Linked DNA regions of Homo sapiens: region 2 is linked to region 1. Evidence: fine-mapped expression QTL. Tissue or cell type: neural progenitor cells. Region 1 holds a variant in brackets; the other region holds the start of a gene. All regions are shown on one strand. Distances are between the middles of the regions.

Region 1 (2,754 bases):
GGGCCCAGGAGTTCAAGACTAGCCTGGGCAACATAGTTGAGACTCCATCTGTACAAAAAAGATTATTTTTAATATACAAAAAAGATGTTCCATTTCAGGCTATGCTATTTATAAGCTGGACAGTCTTGGGTACGCATCACTTAACCTCTCTAGGCCTCAGGCTTTCCATGTGTAGAAAGAGTCAGTTGGACTAAATCAGTGGTTCCCAAGTTATTAGTCCAATGTCTGCCTCAGAATCTTTGGGGGAGTTTTATGAATACAGCTTCCTGACTACTGCATGGAGCCAGGGCCTAGGGAGCTGTACTTTTTTCAACTCCCTAGGTGATTCTGATGCACAGTGGTTTGGGACAACTGAACTAGATGTTTTGCCAGCCTCCTCCAGTGCTGGCACTGATCCATGCTTCTGGGTGAAGGCACAGGGTTTCACAAGACACTGGTTAAAGTGCAGAATCTCTGTGGGGGAAGCAGAGCATTCACCACTGGCCATTTATTGCATATTCATTTAATAAAGATTGTTTAAGCAGCTTCTACATGCCAGGCACTGTGCTAGGTTCTAGGGATACATGCCAGAGCTTGTCTTTAAAGAGCACATGCCCAATGGGAAACAAGACCGTGAAACAGACTGAGCCAGAGTAACTACAGGAACATGGTGGGGGGGAACAACCAGCCCTGAGTCGGCGGGCGTGGGAGGTGGGGGAGTCAGGGAGGGCTTCCTAAGGAAGGGATGTTTAAATAGAGCTGAAGAAGCTGGAGAAAGGAAAGGGCCCTGGGGAACAGGCATTCCAAAGAAAATAACATAAAGAGGCATAGTGGCAAAGAATGGAGCACATCCCTGGAACTCAAAGCATGTGTTTTTGAATAGCTGGAGTGTGGTGAGGTGGGAGGGAAGAGGCAGAGCCCAGAGACAGCAGCAGCCGCCATATCGTGAAGAGCTCAGTGAGCCATGTGAAGGCTTACCCCATGGGCAATGGCATGCCAAGGAATGGATTAAGAGTTGCAAGATCTTGGGAGGCCAAGGCAGGCAGATCGCTTGAGCCCAGGAGTTCAAGACCAGTCTGGGCTCTATAAAAAAAATCAAAAAATTAACCAGGCATGGTAGTACATGCCTGTAGTCCCAACCACTTGGGAGGCTGAGGGGAAGGATAACCTGAGCCCAGGAAGTGAAGGCT[G/A]CAGTGAGCCAAGATTGTGCCACTGCACTCCAGCCTGGGTGACAGAACAAGACCCTGTCTCTAAGAAAAAAAAAAACCTGCATGACTGAGGATGAGTGTATGAATGTATTTAAGAGTCCGTTGTGGCAGCCACAGCATGACATTGACAACACCCGGGGCAGAAGGGGGTCACAGGTCACTCTCCAACGAGGACACACTCCCTGCCTTCCTTTCACAGAGGTGGCTTAACAGGATCAAACACATCTCATTTCTCTGGCTGGTCAACCCTGTCATTTTCCCTCTGGTTCAGAATGGTTTGATATAAGGCCCTACATAAAACAATCAAAAGAAAACCTAAGTCCTGAGGCCTTTAGGGAGTTTAAAACAAAATTTGGTTTTATCCACTGCTTCTTACAGCACCGTAATCTTTAAGAGGCAATATCACGAAAACATAAAGGCAGGTGTTTTGGTTAACAAAATCCAACTTTTTTTAGGAAATTTCCATAGAGTTGGTGGCCAAAAAAACTCACACCAAAATCATTCCAAACATAGTTCTAAATTCAGCCTGTTGGCCAGGTGCAGTGGCTTACGCTTGTAATCCCAACACTTTGAGAGGCCGAGATGGGAGGATTGCTTGAGGCCAGGAGTTCAAAACCAGCCTGGGCAACACAGGAGAACCTATCCTTAAAAATAATTTTTGTTTTTCTATTAGAAAAAATAATAAATTCAGCCTATCATCCACAGTCTGTTTCTGTAATGGGGTCAGCAGAGGTTTGGAAGTATCTGTCTGTTAAATGCATGGCTCTGTGCACACAAACACACATGCAGGGCTGCCGGCTGAACCCCGAGTTCCAGTCTCATCTGCCGCCATGTGTGGGGATGCAGCCTTGGGCTTTGATTTCTACCTCCCTTCTCCCTTCTACACAAACTCACCAAAGTGGGTGGCAGCCTATGAGAACTGAGATCAGCTGAAGGTCTGTTTTTGTAAATATTTTGGTATTATCTGTACTTTCTAGGACATTTGCTTCCTTTATCCATAACCTTGGCTGGGTTGACATCTTTCCAAGTGATTAAACGTCTCCAGATGTGTGCTTTTTACTGGTGGGTGCACAATTACCACGTGTCAATAGAAACTTTCAACACTGCCGAAGATTTTTGGGGGCCAAAGCTCCCATCCCTTCAGTGATAGAGAAGCTAATCTTTCATGTTTGCTTTAGATTGAAATAGTAAAACTCTGGTCTAAGGTTATTCTGAGAAAGTTATCTTTAATGTAGTCCAATAAATGCTCTGTTACTGCATACAGTCAGGGAGTGGTATGTTCTAGTTATTAAAATATTCATTAAAATGATATATACATCTTTTTTTTTTTCTTGAGATGGAGTCTCACTCTGTCCCCCAGGCTGGAGTGCAGTGGTGTGATCTCAGCTCACTGCAACCTCCGCCTCCCGGGCTCAAGTGATTCTCCTGCCTCGGCCTCCCGAGTAGCTGGGAATACAGGCATGCGCCACCATGCCCAGCTTTTTTTTTTTTTTTTTTTTTTGAGATGGAGTTTCACTCTTGTTGCCCAGGCTAGAGTATAATGGCGTGATCTCGGCTCACTGCAATC
Region 2 (2,500 bases), 33 kb before region 1:
TGTCCCGGGAGGAGCTACCCCTGGCGAGGACTGGTGCATCAGGCAAGCCAGGGGCCTCCACCCACCTTCTCCCAGGCCCCCCAGCACCTGCTCCATTTCACTCAGCACCCCAGTAGGACCCCTGCTCCCAGCCCAACCCACCTTTCTGAACCATGGGGGAGACTGTGGCCTTTGTGCTCCCCCTTATGTTTTTTGGGGGGTGAGGAGAGGTGGCTCATTGGGGGCTCCTTGCCAGGTTAGTCTCCCCCAACCTCCTGGGCCTGGCGGTGGGAAGGATGGCTGTGAGGTCAGGGCGGGTCACAATGGGCAGAATGGTTCTTGGGGCTCCATTCTTACCCCTCCCCAGGCCCCTCCCCCGGCCCTTCCTGGAGCAGCTGCTTGGAGGCATCTCTCTGGCAGGCCTGGGTGTGGCCCCACTGGAAGGCAGCCTACTGTTGGTGGCTGGACAGGCCAAGATCAGTAGGGTCTGGGACTCGACCAGGTGAGGGACAAACAGAGGAAACCAGACATGGGGACTCCCTCACTCAGCGCCCACCTGCTGGGACTCCTGTGGGGCCAGGTCCTGGGCCAGACTCCAGGACACCTAGGGAATCAGAGACCTCAGGGAGTTCAGCCTGGAAGTGGGACTGCAGGCAGACCTAAATAACGAAAGGTCCATGCAGCAATAAAGGACTGTGACAGGGCACAGGGTACTATTGGAGAAAGGCCCTTGACCCAGCATCCAGCACTGGGGTGCAAGGAAGGCTTCCTGGAAGCAGTGTCAGAACAGTCCCTGAGGAGCTGGCACTGCACTGGAAGGAAGGGGAGAGGAGGGAAGGGATGAGGACGGGAGAGGAGGGGAGGAGGGCCTTACAGCCAGAGCCAGGTCTCAGGAGCAGACCGGAGGTGGGGTGGGGGAAGGGCCAGGCATGCAGGGGTGGTCCAGACTGGCACTGGGGACCGGTGTCCGGAAGACCCTCCACTGGGCCCGCAGGCAGGCGCAGGGAGTGCCCTAGGGGCCCGCTCGCCCGCCCGTACCTGCGGCTCGCGGCGAGGCCTGCACCGGCGCGGGGCAGCAGAAGGACGCGGCCCAACCAGGCCCGCGCGCCCAGCATGGCTGCTCGGGGCCGTGGGCCCGGCCGCTGAGGACAGGAAGGGAAGTCAGGAGGCTGCGAGGGGCGGGCCGGGCACCTACGGAGCCGCGGGCGGGTCTTCGCCGGGACTTGGGACAGTGTGGCTGGTCTCCGAGCGTCGCCCTGCGGCGGAGCGCAGAATTGCAGATCAGGCACCCGAGCCTTGGGAGGACCCATTCTGTGCATAAAACTGGGCTCTGCCCCTGCCTGGGGAGGACAGCCCTTCTCAAGGGAATAGGGAGAGTTGTGGGATCTAGGGCTGGGAGATGCTAGGGACATGGGATGCCAGAGCTTCAGCTCATTTTGTCCAACCCCTGCCCATTTTACAAATGAGAAATGAGATCCAAGGCGAAGGCGTACCTTGGCCAGGTCCACCAGCTAACAAGGTTTGCTTTTTGCAGCCTCCTCGTCTCTAGGTCCTACTCAAATCCTACCCACTCCAGGAAGTCTTCCTTAAATAATACTGATGAGCCCATTTTATGTCTCATAGGTTACACATGGCCTCATTGGCTACATTCAGCCAATATTTATTAAGTGCCTGCCGCCTGCCACTCTGCAAGGCACTGAGTATACAATGGTGGGCAGAGAGAAACAAGGCTCCTGCCCTCACATGGCTCACAGTCTGTTGAGAGCGGCAGATGCTAATTCGACAGCCATACCGATAAACACCCACGTGACAAGTCCGTGAGGGTATAACGTAACAAGTGACCTGATCTGGTGGAAGGGGCAAAGGATGAAGGCTTCCCTGAGGAAATCACATTTGTGAAGCCATGGAGAACGAGAGAAAGGAACTTGGAGGGTGCTCAGGGGGAGTGCTGGGGAAGGAGGCAGAGGTACAGTTTGTGCAAAGGTCCCGTGGCTTGTCAGTGAGTCCGGGCTGAGCAACTGCAGAAAGAGGGAAGACAGGCAGTAGATGAGGGCAGAGGCAAGATCTTGGAGACACTCGTGAACTGTAAGAAGGGGATTTTTATTTTTTGAGACAGAGTCTCGCTCTGTCACCCAGGCTGGAGTGCAGTGGTGTGATCTCGGCTCACTGCAACCTCCGCATCCTGGGTTCAAGGCTGGTCTCGAACTCCTGACCTCAGGTGATCCATCTGCCTTGGCCTCCCAAAGTGCTGGGATTACAGGCATGAGCCACCATACCCGACCCCATTTTTTTTTAGCCAGAGTCTCACTCTGTTGCCCAGGCTGGAGTGCAGTGGATCTTGGCTCTCTGCAACCTCCACCTCCTAGGTTTAAGCGATTCTTGTGCCTCAGCCTTCCAAGTAGCTGGGACTACAGGAGCGCGCCACCATGCCCAGCTAATTTTTGTATTTTTAGTAGAGACGGGGTTTCGCCATGTTGCCTAGGCTGGTCTCAAACTCCTGACCTCAAGCGATCCATCTGCC

Evidence for each region. PIP is the estimated chance that this variant, and not a neighbour inherited with it, causes the effect.
Region 2: it holds the start of SPATA20, and the variant in region 1 is fine-mapped to the expression of SPATA20 in neural progenitor cells (Aygun 2021, PIP 0.95).

The regions. Positions count from the first base shown.
Region 1 is chr17:50,513,153-50,515,906 of GRCh38, reverse strand. All of the region lies in intron 1 of MYCBPAP (MYCBP associated protein), which reads right to left. Among named protein-coding and RNA genes, the nearest start is that of MYCBPAP, 6.1 kb to the right of the region's middle. The variant G/A (reference allele first, on the strand shown) is at 1,170.
Region 2 is chr17:50,545,803-50,548,302 of GRCh38, reverse strand. It overlaps SPATA20 (spermatogenesis associated 20), which reads right to left and starts at 1,129. Exons shown (of 17, transcript NM_022827.4): 1 at 1,018-1,129; 2 at 536-583; 3 at 1-20. The coding sequence starts at 1,094. RefSeq lists a silencer at 850-1,119.